2 separate regions of the Homo sapiens genome follow, and region 1 is linked to region 2. The links come from fine-mapping of genetic effects on gene expression. Tissue or cell type: whole blood. Region 2 holds a variant in brackets; the other region holds the start of a gene. All regions are shown on one strand. Distances are from middle to middle.

Region 1 (10,147 bases), 33 kb before region 2:
ATTCATTCTAGACATTTACTGAATGCCTACTACGTGCTGGGCACTATTGTAGACACAGCAACATGGCAATGAACAACAGACAAGGTCCTTGGTTTTCAAGGAACTTATATTCTAGTTAGGGATATACTCCCTTCCCCATTTTCAGAGCAGAGTAAAATACAGACTACTCCTCAGACCTTGACCTAAAGAATGGGTGGACTCCAAGTGGCAGCAAACAATCAAACAAGATCGTATCATGACTGGACCACCTGACTAGCAATGAAAATGCACTGCATCAGGAGCCCTGACACCTGGGCTCTGCTAACTTGCCATGAACCTTTGGAAAGTAAGTTATTATTTTTGCGTCTTGAATTCATGGGAAAAGTTAAAGGGCTAGACTAGATAAATGGTTCTCAAACCTTCCAAATGTCATGGACCTTTTTGAAAATGTTACCAAAATTAAGGCCTCTCTACTTAAGAGAAATGCACAACTGCACATGTAAACTAACTTTTCAAGATGTTCACTAATTTCAAGATGTTCACTAACGCCCTGAAGCTTATCCTATATGCCAGTTTAAGAATCTCTCAACTAGGTAATTCACTGAAAAGCCTTCCAGCTCCAAGTATTCTATGATTCTATTCCATTTTACTTCCTCTCGTCTTCCTAGGATTCCAGTCTACAACCACCTCAAGATACTAGAATAAAATGGTTTTTTTGTTGTTTTTGTTTTAATTAAGATACAAAGGGAAAAAAAATTTAAAGAGGGAAAAAAGAGAGATACCAAGAAAGAAATATGTAGCTAGCTCACTGTCCTCCACAGAAGAGTGAAAAGCAGAACAAGATATTATGAAAATTATCTAACAGACATATGAATACATGTGTGGTAATTTTTACAACATAGCCTCAAAATTATTTGCTACTTCTCCATCAAGAGGTAAAGGTCTATGTCCCTTCCTCTTGACTCTGAGCTTTGTGACTACCTCACAAATAATATATTTCAGAAGTGATGCTGTGCCAGTTTGCAGGCTCAGGCCCTAGAAACTGGCAGCTTCTTCTTCCTGGCTCTTTCATTAGATGGTCACTAATGGAACTCAGCCACTATACTGTGCAGAGGCCCAGGTCACGTGTAGGTGTCTCTACTGAAAGTTAACTGCCAGATGTAAGTGAAGACACTCATAGATACTGGCCCCAGCTCTCAATTCATCTCCAGCTTATGAGTCTTTGCAGCTGAGGCTCTAGACATGGTGGAACAGAAACAAACCAACCCTGCTGCAGTCTCTCCAAGTCCCTGACACACAGAGTCCATGAGCATGACAAAGCCATGTTTTATACCACTATGTTTTGAGGTGGTTTCTTACACAATAAATAACTAGGGCATCTTTAAGCTCTGAGGGATCATGTAATACTTCTCACACAGAGATGTCATGAATGAGATTATTTTTCTAAATTGTATATAAGAATTGTTAAAGTTACAGTGGGCATTAATTTAAGCCAAAATCAAGATTTAGAAAACCACACTTAAACTCCAATGACAGGCATTATCCTGCCAGATTATCGAATAAAAAGAGAGTGAGAGAGAAGGAGCGAGTGAGAGAGAAATATGTGACACTCATTAAAAGTTCTCATGTCATTAAAGTTCTCATTAACAGAAGTACCAGAGTTTAGTTTCCAAGTTCATTCATTGACAAGTATTTACAGAGTACTCACCAGTGCTAGGCATTGTTCCAGATGCCAGGCACACAGCAGTGAACATAACAGACAAAAATCACTGTCCCTATAGTACTAACATTCAGTGGAGGAGAAAGAAACAATAAACAAGACCAATAAGTACGTTAAATGGTGTTAAATGCTGAGGAGAAATCTAAAGCAAGGAAGGAGGCCAGGGAGTGTTGCTGGTAGTGCTGATGATGGAAAAGGCTTGCAATTTTAAATACGGGGGTCACAGAATGCCACACAGAGGTGACATTTGTGTCAAGACTTTAAAGAGGTGGGGGAATAAGCCAAGTGGGCACACAAGGAAAGAGCATTCCAGAAGTAAGTATGAAAGACTCTGAGGCTGGTGTGGCTGGGGATGACCGGGCAAGCAAGACAGTAAAAGATGAGGTCAGGCTGGGAGCGGTGGCTCACGCCTGTAATGCCAGCATTTTGGGAGGCCGAGGCGGGCGGATCACAAGGTCAGGAGATCGAGACCATCCTGGCCAACATGGTGAAACCCCATCTTACTATACAAAAAATTAGCAGGGTGTGGTGGTCCGCACCTATAGTTCCAGCTACTCGGCAGGCTGAGGCAGGGGAATCATATGAACCCGGGAGGCGGAGATTGCAGTGAGCCGAGATCGCGCCACTGCACTCCAGCCTGGCAACAGAGCAAGACTCTGTCTGAAAAAAGAAAAAAAAGATGAGGTCAGAAAGGAAACTGCAGACCTGATTGTATAGGCAAATCCTGGCAAAAATCCAACAGCACCGATCTTGGAATCAAAAGAACCAAATTCAATGAGAGCAGTAATGTTTTTGTCTGTTTTGTTCACTAATTTATCACAGCACCTAAAACGGTGCCTGGCAGACATTCAAAACACATTTGCTGAATGAACGACTGAAGTCTTGGCTCTATCACTTAGCAGCTATTTGACTTGTAGCAAGTGATTCCAGTTTTCTGAGCCTCTGTTCTCATTTCTAAAATCAGAATAATCATTTCTCCCCACCTCAGAGGATTATAGTGAGGATCAAAAATGGGGAAGTATTTTGCAAACTGCAAAGCAGTATATATAGGTGAGGTCTTCACATTACTGAAAAAGTGAACAAGAGCAATTATTATTAACAACGACAATGATCTCTCTACCTTTCCCTACTAAATTCAACCACCAAATCATTCTCTCCCTCTCTATAGGCCATGGAACTGGGACAAGGCTAATCTTCCCTTCAGCATGAGAGAGTGAACTTTAAGCACTTGAAGCCTTCTGTAAATGAGTGGCAGTAATTAAGACATAATAGTTACTCCTACCAACTTTTCTTTGAGCCTCTCTGAGAAAAAGAATGAGGCGCTGTTTCCATGTGAAGATTCAACACCCTTTGGTAAAATCCAGTCTGCCTGAGAACTATTTTTTTTCTGTTAAAATTCAAGAATAACCAATAAGAACACCTTGACATTTCCCCAGACATCTTGTCCCTCACTTAAACCTACACAAGATCGTGCTGAAAGAAGGGAAAGGGAAAGCATGAGGAACACTCTCGGGACTGGAAAAACGTTTTTAGAGATCAGGTAATCCAATCATCCCAAACTGAGAATCTACCGCCTAACTGATTCCAGCTGAAGACAGCTTTAGTGTTCGTTCTCATCTGTATATGGGGATAATATCTTCTTAAGGATGCTTCAATTCTGGAATAAAATAATGCATATGAAAGCATCTGACATGGGTTATGCACTCACTAAAACTGGCTGAACCTGGAAATTCTGCATTTATTCAATAAATATTAAGTGAACGTCTACAATATACTAGTCAGTACTCTAGGCACTAGGAAAGGGCCATAAGCAAAAAGCACAAAAATCTTGTTTTCTTGGAGACAACATCTACCTCCTGTAACTTCTCCGACTGGCCCGCCTGGCTTCTTTGGACCTCCGTCTGGCTTTTATATAACACCTCCTCCACGGAATATTGTCCTTTGAGATTCTGCAGATCGCTGTGGTGTACCTCCCCTCTCCACGCCCCTTTCCTCCATCCTAAACAAGCAGCCTTAATTATTTCAAGGAGTAAGCAAGGATGCGGAAACAGGAGCGAAAACTGGACTGGGTGGGGTGAAGGCGGGTGCTAAGACGCCAGGGCTGAAAAAGAAATCAACAGAACCGCTCCGACTCCGGGCCAACGTCAAGACGGGCGGGTCCGAATCAGGTGTGTCACCTGACACCTCTCCCGGGAAGGGCCATCGTCCCCTCCCCAGGCCCACAGAGGTCCCCGCCGGGCTCCGGGTACCGGCCCCAGGGGGCGCCCTGGCCAGGGATGGAGGCTGGAGGGGCCGGCTCGGGCCCTCACCCCTCAGTCCTCGCCTTTTCTTCCCAGTCGCCTCAGAGACAATTTCCAGCATCGTTCGTGGTGTTTCCAGGCTCCCGCTTCCCAGACCTAGGCCCCGCCGCTCCCGAAACCCCCTCATCGAGCGGCCTCTCACCCACACCATCCTTTCCTCCACAGCTGCAGCCGCTCTCCCGGCCCCCAGGACAGCCACCGCCCGGCCGCACTCACCTGCGAGCCCAGCCCCGGCCCCTCCATCTCCCCAGGAGCCCACAGCGGCTGAGGCTACTAGGCAAGTAGCGACTGCCGCCAGCCCGCCAGCCCGCCTTGGGTCGCCTCTTCTCCCACTTCCTGCTGGCGCCCTCACCTCCGCCGCTGCGGTCCCCGCTCGTGCCCTGAGCCGTCAATCGGTCCCGGAGAACCAATCCCAGCCCTCCATCGGCTAGGGGCGGGACTTTCTCACCTCCTGGGAAGCCCGCTGTGAACAGCTCGCCAGAGGCTCCACCCCCGGCCCGCCCGTGCCGGTCGCTCCCCCAGCCCCAGCCCAGGACCGAGCGCCCCTCCCTGCCCCAGGTGCCACGGGCCCCAGATGTGCGTCCAGGGTCAGGATCAGACTGTTATTCCAACGTCAACCACCATCTATTGAGAGCAAATCTGGACTTGGCTACTTAATTGCTAAATGACCTTGTGAAAGTCTCTTATTTTACCTCAATTTTCTCATCTGTGAAATGAGGAAAATAAGGGTACCTACTTCATGGAATTATCAGGAGGATTAAATGAGAAAACGCATGTAAAGCCCCTCAGCCCGTGCGTTACATATAAAAAGGAATCAATAGATGTTAGCTATTTAAATGTTTTCCACTCCATTTGCGTGATCTTGGGCAAGTCACCTCTACCGCCTGAGGTTCTGTTTCCTCAAATGAAACAAAAAATGAGTTCTACGGCGCAGGCTAGAGGGGGAGTGGGCGAGAGCCTCCCACTTGAAGTGCACCTCCCCCCTGACCTCCACGACCCTTTGTGGAGGGCACTGGAGGAGCTGGCATTTAAGCCCTGTCCAGCTTGAAGGTCTATGAAGCAAGCATTAGGGATGGCTCCTTCCCTTGGGGCGTTCCAGTGGGGCAGTGGGGCTCTCCTACTTCAGCCCCGAGTAAACACTGGGGTTTTTCTAGCCCAGCACTTAACACAGTTCTTTGTAATGGTTCCTTAGATGTGTCTGTTGCCAAGTGGAACCAGATTAAGACCTTTAGAAGCTAATTTGAAAACGATCTGAAAACATTATGACTTCCTTATTTTATAAAAATAATACTAAATCATAAAATAAATAAATAGAAATCCAACAAAGTGCTGGGTTTTCCATGGAAAATATTGCTATGATACAATAAAATCGTAGATGTATTACTATTGCTTTAGTGTCTGTGTCCTTTGGGCACGTCAGCCCTGGCTTGCCCCCAAAAGCCCAAACCCTTTGAGGATAGGAACCATGTCAGATCCATCTCTGAACTCCCAGTGTCTAACACAGCACTGGGACATGGAAAATGCTCAGCACAATTTTAATGAATGATGGATGGATGGATGTACAGGCGTGTCATTAATACACGGACAAATGGAGTGACAAGTAGAAGTGCAAGCAACTCCCACCGAAAGCCAGAGGAAAAAGCAATTAATTCCGACAAGTTAGGATGAGGCATTGGGTGAGGATTCATACAGGAAGGAATGTTTGGGTTTGGTCATTTTGCTTAACTAATAAGAGCTTTCTGGCCGGGCGTGGTGGCTCACACCTGTAATCCCAGCACTTTGGGAGGCCGAGGCAGGTGGATCACGAGGTCAGGAGATCGAGACCATCCTGGCTAACACGGTGAAACCCCGTTTCTACTAAAAATACAAAAAAAAAAAAAAAATAGCCGGGCGTGGTTGTGGGCGCCTGTAGTCCCAGCTACTAGGGAGGCTGAGACAGGAGAATGGCGTGAACCCGGGAGGCGGAGCTTGCAGTGAGCCGAGATCGCGCCACTACACTCCAGCCTGGGTGACAGAGCGAGACTCTGTTTCAAAAAAAAAAAAAAAAAAAAAAGGTTTATTTATTCATCACTTACTATGTGTTGGCACTGTGCTAGTGTTTTCATACATTATGTCTCATCCACGAGATGGGTGGTATTTTCCTCATCTCCTGGGAGGAGAAACTGAGGTTCAGGCTGATTCCATAAACCCCAAGTCACTCAGCAAGTAAGTAGTAAAGAGAGTATTCAAACCCAGGTTTCTTACTGCAAGCATTTTGGCTGAAGTAGTTTGTTTCTTTCATTTTCAAAGTCTGATTTAGAAGATGCTGAACTTGAGGGAGGCTTAAAATCTGTTTCAATGCGTCTGCACTAATATCCTAACACATTGGAAGATTTTGGAGCAACTAAATCCGAACACCCCACTCCTTAGTCAGGCTCCTGGTTTCCCTCTGCTCATGTTTTATGCTTCCAGTGAGCTATTTCAGATTAAGCATATCCATGTCTAATGGCTATATGAAACCAAACGCAGTGATAGCCTCTAACTGCCCCCAATACCTCTCAACTTTGAAAATACCTTTGCTGGGATAGACTGGATTAAGAAAATGTGGCACATATACACCATGGAATACTATGCAGCCATAAAAAATATGAGTTCATGTCCTTTGTAAGGACATGGATGAAGCTGGAAACCATCATTCTCAGCAAACTATCGCAAGGACAAAAAACCAAACATCGCATGTTCTCACTCATAGGTGGGAATTGAACAATGAGAACACTTGGACACAGGAAGGGGGACATCATACACTGGGGCCTGTTGTGGGGTGGGGGGCTGGGGGAGGGATAGCATTAGGAGATATACCTAATGTAAATGATGAGTTAATGGGTGCAGCACCAACATGGCACATGTATACATATGTAACAAACCTGCACGTTGTGCACATGTACCCTAGAACTTAAAGTATAATAAAAAAAAAAAAAAGAAAATACCTTTGCTGGTAGACATAGCCCACTAGAATAGTATGATGGTAGAAGAAGCAGGCTCCTGGAGCCCAGCTCCAGCACTTAGTATCTGCATGCCCTTGGGCAAGTTACGAAGTCACTTGTGCTTCGGTTTCCTCATCTGTAAAAATGAGATAATAACAGTACAGTACTTACTTCACAGTGCTGTCAAGAGAATTAAGTGAGCTAATGTATGTAAAGTACTTAGAGGAAGGTCTGGTACATACTAGGCACAATGTATATGTTAACTATTCTCATCATTGCCATTGTCATCCTTGGGAGTGGGTGTTGGGGAGGGCAATTGACTGTACCAGATGGGTACTGTCATGCCAAGGGCCAACGATAGAGATTCAGCAGGCTCAACTTCTAATTCAAGATTTGCCATCACTTTCTGTGTGTATTAGTTTGGTAGCACCGCCATAAGAAAGTACCACAGACTGAGTGGCCTAAACAAAAGAAATTTGTTCCACAGTTCTGGAGACTAAAAGCCTGAGATGAAGGTGTTGACAGGGTTGGTTTTTTCTGAGGCCTCTCTCCTTGGCTTGTAGATGGCCATCTTCTCCCTGTGTCTTCACATAGCCTCCTTCTTTGTGTAGCCATATCTTAACTTCCTCTTTTTATAAAGATACCAGTTATATTGGATAAGAGCCCACCCTGATGACCCATTTTAACACTATTACCTCTTTAAAGACTCTATTTCCAAATAAAGTTACATTCTGAGGTACTGGGGGTTACAACTTCAACATATGAATTTAAGGGGGACAAAATTCAGCTCATTACACTGTGTGACCCTGGGCAAATCACTTTCGCTCTCTAATGACAGTTCATTTGTTTGTAAAATAGGGATGAGAACAGAGGCTGGAAGCAGTAACTCTACAGTTCTCTCAGCTCTGATCATGTCATTTCCCAGCTGAGACTAAGCTTTACCTTTCCAGTCCCCCCAGCACTTTTAAGTCTCTTTTAGGTGACACTATTTCTCTCATTCTACAAACATATATTGAGTTCCTTCTATGGACCAGGCACTGTTCAGCATTGGGGATTCGGTATTGAGAAAGACAGAGAAAACTGTTTTGTGGCTTCCTGGGACTTACTCTACTGTCTAGCAGTAAGAGACAGACTTTAATCAAATGGGGTCACAAATATTTACTTTTTATAGTCAGCCTTGTAGTTCTTAAGTAGATCCTCTTTCCTCCACTTGGCCACCTCTTTCCTCCACTCAGCCTCCACTTGGCTGCCGGTTGACATCCATTTGTCTGCATTATGTTTTGCACAAGGTCTGGCACATGCTAAAGGCTAAAAAGACGTGTTTTTTAAATAAATGAAGAAACAAATGAGCCCAGTTGAAAAAAAAATGGTTTATAAGACGACATTAAAGGCAGCTCAATTCCATAAATCACTCTAAGATGTGCTGATTTCACAAAGTTTAACCACTATTGGATTTAAAAAGTCCCATATTAAGGTTTGCTAATCCTCCTTGTCACAATATGAGCATCAGCTGACTTTGTTCTGACTAAACTTTTGATTCTGGCCTCGCTTCTTCCATACCTGTGGAAAGGACAGGGATGGTTTTTGAACCAGGGACTTATGGTTGTAATCATTCTGATGGCTGCAACAAAATGACCCTTTGGAATGTCCAAAAACCCCACACATCTGTCAGCAGAGGGCTTCTCACAAACACCAGGTAGGAAATCCTGATGCTCTGTGGTACCAAGCCAGAGGGGCTGGGGGGGGTGAGTGCTTGCTGTACTTTAGGTAGTGAACGTTTGTTGAGCTCTGAACATACACCAGGTCCAGGCTAAACATATGAGTAAAGTGGTGGACACCACAGCCTCTGCTCTTCTGGAATTCAGTCCAAGGGAGGCAAATACTGATAGAGATAAATAAATAGATAAAAAGAAATAGAGACAATGGCAAATGCTAAACAGGAAAAGTGCCAAGAATATAATACAGGAACCCACTTTAGCCTGGGGCGATAGGTGGGGTAGAGAGTCCTCTTCAGAAAGTCATAACACCAGCTCAAAAGGACTTTCCCAACTTCATTCACCCATGGAGAAACTGAGGCTCAGGGAGGGAAAATGACTTGAACAATGCACTTTCCAAAGTAGCAGTGAATATAGGGTTAGGACAACTCTTCTGACCCTGTATGGCTCTCTTGCCAGCGCTTGGGCAGCCTCAGCTTTCTAACTGTAACCCAACTCACAGATGCTCCAGGCTAGGGATTGGGAGATGGACAGGGATTACCTACGAGTCTTGCTCAATCTCTTGTCTTCTACTCATGAAAAAGCTTCAACAATGAAAAGTTAAAAACTCATTTTATATACAGATCACCAAGATCTAGTCATGACATATTTTAAGAACCACAATTATTATCTGGGTTAGGAGCCCATGGTGTGCATTGTATATTTTACTTGCCAGATTAACCAGATTTATATGGTGAGGTGTGTGTGTGTCTGTGTGTGCCAGTGTGTGTATGCAAGGGAGGTGTAGAGAGGGAGAAGGTGAAGCAGGAAGTATTCCTACTACTTTCAGTAGTTACTATTTTGAGTCTTAGTCATCTTCTTGCAGTGATACATTTAAACATCTATGGAAATTTTTTATGGCTATGTCCAAATTGTCACAGCAACACTCAGAATTGGGTAATAAATCTACCTTGACTCTGATACAGATGTGGCAAGACTCCCTTCTCCACCTTCTATATCCTGCTATCATAGTTTGTATTTATTGGTTTATATACCCATCTCCCCATAGTCTCTGTGCTCACAGCAGACATTTAAGTATTACTTCCCAAGGAAGGTCTTCCTGGACTCCTAGACCAGGTTAGGATGCCCTGTTAGGTGCCCCACAGCACTTTGAAATGCTACTATCACAGCGCCTGTGGAACATTATTACTTTGCTGCATTCAGGTTGAGAACATTTATCTTCTCTGCATACCATAAGCCGTGAACACAGAACCTGGGCCTGTCTCAGACACAGATGCATTGCCAGTGCATGGCACGGTATGTGGCCCATGGGAGCTGCTCAATATTCAGTTGTTGAATGAGTAAACAAACATATGTCATTCATTTTTATTTGCATTTCTAGCACCTAGCACAGTTCCTAACACAAGCTAAGTGCTCAAAAATGTTGACTTGCATTTAAAAATCTCATTTCTGTCTCTATACAGTTTGCAA
Region 2 (10,147 bases):
CTAGCATTAGCTCACTTTCAGGTGATCTTTCCAATAGCCCTTCCTACAGTGATATGGGCAGAGAGGATTGAACTACTCAGATGTAAGACCTGGGAAGTGCTTTGAGTGGCAATAATAAAAGCTAGAATCTGGGAGCAAAAATGGCTACATAATTTGCAGTACCTCATTTTTTACAAATCACCAAGAATTTTAAGATGGCAACATTAAGCCAACCACAGGGTCCTTCTAAGCATGGGGTCCCATGCAACATCACAGGTTGCATGCCCATGACACTGGCTCTGTCTAGGGGTAAAGATTGGCGCAGGTTCTTATCCAAACGCACACATAGTTTCTTCAAGGGGGCTGCCAAACTCAGTAGGCTCACAGCCTCTTCCCTGGGCAGATGGTAGCCCAGCATTCCAGCTCACACAGTCAGCTTGTGGCTCTTGACCTCACGAAAGGAACAGGAGGCAAGGAACAGGAAATCTGAGTTTCAGTCCTGGTTTTGCTTTAAAATTGATGTGAGTCACCTAACTTTAGGGCCTTAATTTCCTTGCCCGGATTACGTGTTGAGTAAGTATTGTTTCTCTTCCTTTCGATAAAAAAAGGCCCAATTCTGGGATCTCTGCCACATGACCTCTTGTCGGAGTATTTGGAGAAAGACACGGGTCCAATGGTGGGTCTTTGGTTACAGAAAGAACTCAGTGAAATGTATTTGTAACTCACAGCAAACTCCAGATAGTTTTTTGTATCCCAATACCGTCTTATTTCACTAGAAAAGTAATCATTGGCCATTCTCTGAATAATTTATTTGAAGAAACTTTCTTACCTCCTCACCAATTCTTTGTAGGCCCACAGGCGACTGATGCCCTCTCTCTGTGCCTCAATTTCCTCTTCTGTAAAATTGAGACCTGCATTAGAGATCTTCATGTCCCTTTTAGCTCCCATTTCTGCATTTCTTTGAATCTATGAAGTAACTGGTCCAGCATATAGCATCACATGGTGTTGAGATGAACTTAGCTGTCTCTGTCAATAGAAGGTAAGCTCACTGAGGTCAAGAATGATGTGTGATTCACTCTAAATCTCCAGTTCCTGGCACAGTACCTCATGCTCAATTAAGAATGGAATGGACAAATCTATCAATGGATGGACAGGGTCTCTGGAAGAGACTTAAAACAAATGATCCAAGGAAGCGAACACAAAGTTGTAATCAGAAGCAAAGCCCAAGGCAAAGAAAGCGAATGGGGGTAACCACCTATCAAGGGAGATTGAGTACTGGGTGATCAACATCTGAAATGATACAAAGGCAACAAGAAAATTTAAGGCTAAAAAGAGACAAAAAGGGCTGCGCGCAGTCGCTTACACCTGTAATCCCAGCATTTTGGGAGGCCGAGGAGGGCGGATCACTTGAGGTCAGGAGTTCGAGACCAGCCAGGACAACATGGTGAAAGCCTGTTTCTACTGAGAATATAAAAAATAGCTGGGCGTGGTGGCACACGCCTGTAATCCTAACTACTTGGGAATCTGAGTTAGGAGAATTGCTTGAACATGGGAGGCTGAAGTTGCAGTGAGCCAAGATCACACATAGATCTCACAAGATGGGCGACAGTGAGACTTTGTCTCACACACACACCCAAAAATGTCAAAAAGATTTCACACTGGGGAGGTCATTAGTGACCCCTGAGAGAAAAGAAGATACCAAAAGTTTAGGAACAGGTAGATCATAAGGAAGGGACAACAGGCAGAAATGACTATTTCAAAAAATGTGTTGGAAAAAATGAGAGTGATAAGAAGGTAACTGGGCACATGGCAAAATCAAAAGAATTATTGTTTATCAATTTATTTTCTTTAAGAGGAGACCTGTATGTTTATCACAGTACTCTTCACAATAGCAAAGACATGGAATCAACCCAGGTGCCCATCAATGGTGAATTGGATAAAGAAAATTTGGTACATACACACCTGAAATACTATACAGCCCATAAAAAAGAATAACATCATGTCTTTTGCAGCAACATGGATGCAGCTGGAGGTCATTATCCTAAGTGAATTATCACAGAAACAGAAAACCAAATAATGCATGTTCTCATTTATAAGTGGGAGCTAAACATTGGGTACACACAGGCACAAATATGGAAACAGTAGACACTGGGGATACCAAAAGGGGGAAGGGAGAAAGAGAAATAAGGATTGAAAAACTACCTATCAGGTATTATGTTTGCTACTTGGGCAATGAGATCATTAGAGGCCCAAACCTCAGCATCATGCAATGTATATATGTAACAAACCTGCACGTGTACCTCTGAATTGAAAATTTAAATAAATAAAATAAAGTGAAAAAGAAGAGAAGGAGACCCAAAATATTTGTTAACCAAGAGGAAAGATTGAAGGAGGAAAAGGCAGAAAGTTTAAGAGGGAGAGAGGAGGCAACTGATGGATTTATGTCCTGGAGGAGTCAGGAGAGAAAGGGGACCAAGAGCACAGTTCTTTCCCCCCTTGTCTCTGCCACCTATAAATCTGACAAGCAGACCACTGGGTGCTGTAGAGGACATCCAAACAGCAGAAAGAAGTTGGGAAGTGTGGCTCTTGAGGTCCCATCTTACAAATCCTGTGACCGTGATGTTCATGCATCCTTACTGTGGCATGTGGTTCACAAGCAGATGACAGCAATGTGAAGAACATCTTTGAAATATAGTCTGGTGGCGGCTCACGCCTGTAATCCCAGCACTTTGGGAGGCCAAGACGGGTGGATCACGAGGTCAGGAGATCAAGACCATCCTAGCTAACACGGTGAAACCCCGTCTCTACTAAAAATACAAAAAAAATTAGCCGGGCGTGGTGGCGGGCGCCTGTAGTCCCAGCTACTTGTGAGGCTGAGGCAGGAGAATGGCGTGAACCCGGGAGGCGGAGCTTGCAGTGAGCTGAGGTCGCGCCACTGCACTCCAGCCTGGGGCGACAGAGCAAGACTCCACCTCAAAAAAAAAAAAAAAAAAAAAAAAGGAAATATAGTCTAGTGCCTGCAGCTTACCCTGGACCACATTTCCACATTTCCAAAGAGGAAACGAGCCCTTTGAGATGTACTCCACCTGTTTGGGAATGTGGTCCAAGGATGGAGAGTGGTGTAGTAGGAAAAGCACCAGGCTGGAAGTCAGGAGTTCAGATCTAGTCTCTCCTTGTAATTCTTTATGTGCCCTTGGTCATATCCCTTTTTCTCTGGGAGTTGCAGTTTTCCTTGGAAACACAGGAGTTTGAAATAGGTGACTGCTTTATTTCTACATGCTCTGACTGAAGTGTTACAGAGTCATCCTGAAAGAGTTGGCACTCATCTCTGTGGTTCTTGGGCAGCTCTGTGCCTAAAGTGGCCACTGAGGTACAAAGAGCAAAATAGGTAGTAAGTCCTTCTTGGCAATTCTTACTCATGTCACTAGACAGCTCACGGTATGAGCATCGCCTCCAAGAGGAAAACCCACATGTTTGTCAGTGACATTCCAGACCCTCCCGTTTGGGCTGCAGCATCAGCATGACCAAATCATGTTTGGCAAAGAAAGGCTCATGTCTGGCTGTATGCTGATGACATTGATGAAATTCAGTATTGCCTTGGGAGACTGATTTCCTGATGGAGTTCCAAGTTCTGAGTTTATAACTTGGTTTACCCTTTGTCGACCAATTTCCACATAGGATTAAAAGGCAGGTAGATGTACCTTTGCCATTAAATAAATCATGACAAATTATTCATTAATTCATTCAAAAATGTGCATTGAGCAACTTCTATATACATTAAATGTATATGAGTTGGATGCATGGATGATGAATGAATAAATGGAAGGATGGATAAGTGGGAGGATAATTTAGTAAATGGATGGATGACTAGGATGGAGGGATGAGTGGATGAAAGATGGATGGATGGAGGGATGAGTGGATGAAAGATGGATGGATGGATGGATGGATGGATGATGAATGGGTAAAATCATCAGGAGGGAGCTTGACAAAGAAGTAGGAGACCCAGGATCTGGTCTGCAACATCATTTATCAGCTAAGCATATGAGCAAAGATTTTTTCAGTTACAAGTGACAGAAACTTAAAGTGGCGAACAGGGAAATAAAAAAGAAATGTATTGATTAATATATCTGAAAAATTATCATGAGTCTTTGTCTTGCAGCTCTGGTTTCTTTCATGTTAACATCATCCTTACCTAGTCTTTCCCCATCCAGTGGCCAGATTTACCATCAGCACCTCCAGCCTTACATTATTCCAGCTTTGCAACCTCCAAACGAGTGTCTTTCCCCCAAGAGTTCTAGAAAAAGTTCTTGAGAGGGTTCTCATTGGCCCAGCTTGAGTCATTTGCTCATCCCTGAACAAATCCTGTGGCAAAGAGGGTACAGTTCTCCAACTGGTCAGGTCTGCCCTGGACCCACCCACAAAGTCCAGAGATGATGTCTTGTACAGTGAAATGCATGGACTCAGAGTGAAGACAGGGTGGCATTCCCAGAAGAGAAAGAAATGGATGCTGGGCAGGCAAAAATCTTGGAAGTCCTCTTGCTGGGTGACTACA[A/G]GGCAGTTCCTTTGCCACTTGGAACCTCTCAGCCCCCTCCCATGGCTGTCCTCACTGCATAGATTTCTTGTGATGTGAAAGCTCTTTGACAAAGTGGGGCTTATGCTTTTCACTTGTCCCTTATTCAGCACCCATCTGTGGCTCTTCCTCCTTCTCCAAGCCTTCGCCAGCATTTGGCCTCCAGGTTCCTCCCTTTTCTGACTTATGCCACTTAACTTTTCAGGCCATGCAACCTGACAACTAACCATTAGGTGTATTTGGAGCAGAAAAAGTGCCCAGGCCTTTGTCAGGCCCAACAAGAAATACTGCAATGAATAAGACCTCTCTCTCCACACAGGGATCTCCCAGTTTAGTCAGAGACAAGTATCCTTCTTGCATTGTGCTCTAACTGCTCTCTGTGTGAGTCTAATCTCCAAAATAAAACCACTGGCTTTTCAGGGGCAAGACCATGACGCATCTTTCTGTCACCCACATCCCTCTAGGCCATTTTATCCCAAGAGCACCAACAAGGGAACTAGGGCCCTAAGTGCCCCCAACAGTGAAATAGTTGAAAGTCCTACCCCACTGGTCCCAACCTTCCTGCTAAAGGACCCAGTATCCAGGACAGTCTTCCTCTTTGCTACCTCACAGCACCTGCCTTGCCTTCCACACCACCTCACCTGGGGCCCTCAGTCACTGGGTCATTGGGACTTAGTTTAGCAATGGCTTCCATCTTTGGCTTCTGAAGTCAATGGAGCTGTGTGGCCCTGGCTGTCCTCTGGATCTAGACATCTCCAAGCTGACGAAGGAAAGGATCCTCCTCTGGCTGTTTCAGACCACGTTGCAAGGCCAGAAATAGGGTGGTAGCTTCGTGATCCCTTCCTTTAGCCAGCAAATATGTTCTGAACATCCACCCTTCTGCACCCAGCTAGTGTGCTGGGGAAAGAATGGTGAGTAGGTAGGCAGAGTCCTGTCTTTCAGGAACTCACAGACCAGCTGAGAAGACTGCTGGCTCCTCATCCAACCCGAGTGAAGCTTCTCAGACTCCACAGTGACATCCTCTATCCACTCATTGGAACAAGAATGATGGGAACTTAGTAAGAGTACCCTAGCTCCTTGGTGGAGGGGAGTTGGGAGTGAAGGAGAGGAGTGGCCCCATAATGAGCTACTCAAAATGATCTTTTGATGTCATTTGTCAGTCGGGTTCCTGGACTTAGCATATGTGCCCAGATTTACTTTTTCTCTACCTACTGCCAGGGAAGTATTGTGGCAACCATTGGCCACATGCTGAACATCTTGGCCTTGGCTTCAGCCATTCATTTAAGGAAGCCTATTAGGGCTCTTCTGGGAGGTTCCTGTGGCCTTTGCTGCTTAAACCAACGTGCCCAAATCTGCAATCTTGCTTCACTTACATCCTTCACATTATGTAGCACATGTCTGAATGCTGCTGACTCCTCAAAGGACAGCTGATGATGAATAAGTCTAAAGTGAAATAAAGCCAATGATTCAATGGAATTGAACTGCAATAAACCGAATGACCCTCTCTTAAGCACTTACAGACAGAAGGTTTTTTTTGTTTGTTTCTTTTTGGTTTTTTGTTTTGTTTTGTTTTTGTCAGGGTCTTACTCTGTTGCCCAGGCTGGAGTGCAGTGGCACCATCACGGCTCACAGCAGCCTCCAACTCCTGGACTCAAGTGATCCTTCCACCTCAGCCTCTCAAATAACTGGGACTATAGGCACATGCCACCACATCTGGCTAATTTCTTGTTTTTGTTTTTGTTTTTGTTTTGTTTTGTAGAGATGGGGTCTCACTATGTTGCCTAGGACATAGTGAGACCCCATCTCTACAAAACAAAACAAAACAGGAGTTCAAGTTGATTGCATGAACTCTTGGGCTCAAGTATTCCTCCTGCCTCAGCCTCCCAAAGTGCTGAGATTACAGGTGTGAGCCACCATCCCTGGCAGAAGTTGATTTTTTAAAAAGGAGGAACATTTCCTGACCCATCTGCTCTTGACCAAATATCCCATGAACTCCTTCCAAAGGTGAGCATTTCTCTGGCATATTTCTGCTCTTCTCTCCTTTAAACTCAGAGGTAATATTACTCCCAGGATCTCAGTCCCTTTTTCTCTCCCTGCCACATCTTCTTTCTGACATTAAAATCAGTCTCTGTCTTTCATATCCACACAGGGAGGAGGTGGGGTTCAGCTAATGAATATTTGAGAAGCCCTTTGAGATCTTGGATGAAAGGTACCTTATAAAATGCAATTAAAAATAATATGGGTAATTACTAGCTGGGCTAATCCCTGTAGGATAATTAGAGAGTTTTCCTCTGGCAGATTCTGAATTCATGCAGAAACTCAGAGTTCAAAAGGCAAAACTGATTTGAAATTTCAGGGGCCACTGGTATGCTTCCTCTGTTCCAGCATCATATCCGTGAGTCTTTTCTGAAATCTGAGGAGCTTCTTAGCAGGCCAGAGCTGGAAAGGATCTTTGAGATGATCTTTCCAAACTCTTTGGATTACAGATGAAGCCACCAAGACCCAGAAAACTGATGTGTCTGGCTTAAAGCTGCAGAGCAAGTGTGGGAGAGCCACAGCTCAGGTCCAGTCCCTAGACACCCCAATTTAGGGGTTCCTGTCACCACTCCTAATCTATAATGTACTCTCTCCAAATCTCTGCATACTGCACAGTAGAGTACTGGAACAAAAGTCACACAGAGTTGAATTCAAATCCCAGCTCTGACACAGATGAAAGCAAAGTAGCTGGCAAGTAAGCCTCAATTTCCCCATGTGTATAATGGGAATAATAACACCTGCCTCATAGGATTGTTGTGAGGAGTCAATGAGTAATGACACGGAAGCGTCTGGCACAAAGCACGTGTTCAGTCAAAGCTGCTGGAATGAATGGAGTCTTTGCAGTCCTGGGGTTTGACCTACAGTCCTTGTTTTGTACAGCTATGTTCAATCTGCATTTATGGGGCACTTACATGCTGCAGACTGTGCTAAGCTCTCCAGTACTTTATGTCATTTAGTCATCACCACATCCCCTCAAGGTCAGCAGTATGAAGTTGAGCTTCAGGTTGGTTAGCTAACTTGTCCAAGGCCACAGCTGAAGAGGAGGCAGGACTTGGCCCTGTGCGCTCAGCCACCACGTGACACTGTCGTCACTTGTGAGAAGAGGAATGCACATTGTTATAACCACAGTGGAGCCCTAAAAGGGTTTTCTGCTGGGATACAGGGGAGGAGTAATGGAGGGAGATTGGGAATGGTTGTAGCCTAAGAGGATCTATTGAAGCATTTTTGTTTCCAGTTATAAAAATTAAATTCTTCTCCTGCATAAGATTTAATTATTCTGAGGAGGCTGCACTGATGAAAGTAGTTAAATTATCTTCTCTGAAAAGATAATCAAGAAATCTGGATTCAGGTCCTGGATCTGCTCCTTAGAAACCGTGTGTCTTGCTCAAGTCCCTCAACGTTTCCATCTCCCCAAGACTTGTGTTCCTCATCTATGTAATGCCTTATCCCACATGGAGTCTTTGGAGGCTCAAATGTGAGTAACATGGAAGTGCTCTGTCAATTGCAACTTCTGTACAAATGAGAATCATTACTTGTACCATTCATAGTTTAGAAGACTTTCAGTCTGAAGGAGGAGATAGCTGGAAGCCCCAGGCTGGGCTACTAATCCAGCACACTTCGCAGGCTGGGGACAAAACACATCACATAATTTATGGCTCTGAGCTCAAATTATTTGGTTGGAAGTAGGCACTTTGGGGGAACAACCCTTTGAAATTTAATTGTAAATTAATGGGTTTCACTTGTTTCAGGTTTCAAATTTTTTTCTGGGCTGAGACCCAAGATTAAAACCTGATGTGTCACATTCTTTCATTCTGTGTGTTTAGAAGAAAACAGGCCCCTGTGAAAGGCTGCTGGGTGAGGCTGGCAAAGGAGGAAGGAGCTGATCCAAGAGTTGTTAATCACCCCCCAACGATTTCCTCATCAACCGAGCCTTTCCCAAGGACTCCCTAGAAACTTGAATAACCAGGAATGTATTCTTCTGAACTACCCTGTTTAAAACGGACAGCTGAGTCATCCTTTCCAGGGATGTCCAGGGCTGACCAAGAGAATGACAGTGGCTAAGGCTATCAGAGCCAAAGGACACTCAGAGGTTGCTCTCTGCAGCCACCCCAGGCAGGGGTTTTTTGAAGAGATGGTCATCTCACACCCCTAGCGATGGGGAACTCACTCCCTCTCATTGTCAGACACTTGCTGGAAGCTGCTCCAGATCTCCAGCCTCCATTTATCTCTGTGTAATTCTCACCCACTGCTCAAGGGTCCATCCTCTGGAGCCACAGGGCCATGTATAGCCCTCTCCACCACCTGCGTCAACCCTGAGACAACCCTTCCCAAGACTAAGTCCTACAAGTTAAAGAGATGGATGTAGCTGAAAATATATATCTTGAGGCATCAGAAGGCTTGAATTCAAATCTCAGCTTAACAACTCATTAGCTTTGTGACTTTGGGAAATTTGCTTAACATCTCTGATCCTTAGTGTACTTATCTTTAAAACAAATACCTTTGGGGATTGCTGTGAGGATCTAACATATAAAGGAAGAGGAACCTAAGGCCAGAAGTAAAGTCAGACCCAAGTGAATACATGGGAAGAAACTATCACACACTCCGGGGAATTCTGTACCGTCTGGTGGCCTAGACCTGTTACACACAGGACTTTACTAGGAATGAAGGGGTGATTCTGCACTAATCCTTATATCCATGCAGTGCAGGGAGTCAAATTAGAGAGCCCTCTGAATAAAGCCAGGACTCAGAAACAGCTATACTCTCTGAGAAAAAGGATGATTGATGAAAAATAAAACAAACAAAACATAAAACCTGCACAGTATAACTAAGCAGCAAGGAAAAGTGTCTGTGTCCACCTTGATTTACAGTAGTTGGGGGAGAAAATAGTGCCCTGAGGTTTCAGTGCTACTGGCTGACCATTGCATAACTAGGGATTCTGAAATGACACTAATTTACACATGGTCTTAAAACCCTCAAGATGATCAATTGAATTTAAGTGGACCTTGAAAAAGAAAAAAATAAAGTGGACTCTGTTCTGTTATCAGTATGTCCTGACGCCTGACAGAAGCAATCAGGAATCTTCCCTACAGAAATGCACCCTCAAGCCAAGCCTTATAGAATTATCATAAGATTCCAAAAACTAGGGGCTCACAATCAAAATGATGTGTGCAAGGAAACAGACCACCATGAATCAGTGGCAGCAGAAACAGCAAATTATAGAACCAGGCCCACAAAGACTTCAGATATTGGGATACATATAGACTATAGAAAAATTATGTTTAATATGTTTAAATAAACATATTAAAGAAAGACTCAAAAGAAGACTCACACCCACATCTTCTGGCATGGTCCAGTGCTCTTTCCACTAATTCAAGAAAGAAAGAATAAAAAATGAGTCAAGAACAAAAGAATATAAAAATGACCAGGCAGATTTGAAAAATAATCCAAGTACCTACTAATGATGAAGTATCTCAAGCTTCCTCTATGAAAGCCAACACACTTCCTATTAGACAAAAATTTAGAAAATGTCCAGTCCACCCCCAGCTATTAAATGCATCCTGT

Evidence for each region. PIP is the estimated chance that this variant, and not a neighbour inherited with it, causes the effect.
Region 1: ZDHHC13 starts here. The variant in region 2 is the best candidate, but not a certain one, in a credible set for the expression of ZDHHC13 in whole blood (INTERVAL, PIP 0.87).

Annotation. Positions count from the first base shown.
Region 1 is chr11:19,111,345-19,121,491 of GRCh38, reverse strand. ZDHHC13 (zDHHC palmitoyltransferase 13) reads right to left here and starts at 4,324. Exons shown (of 17, transcript NM_019028.3): 1 at 4,216-4,324. The coding sequence starts at 4,242. RefSeq lists silencers at 3,905-4,134, 4,225-4,304, 4,355-4,594.
Region 2 is chr11:19,078,170-19,088,316 of GRCh38, reverse strand. No RefSeq gene overlaps it. Among named protein-coding and RNA genes, the nearest start is that of MRGPRX2, 23 kb to the right of the region's middle. RefSeq lists a silencer at 9,981-10,147. The variant A/G (reference allele first, on the strand shown) is at 4,532.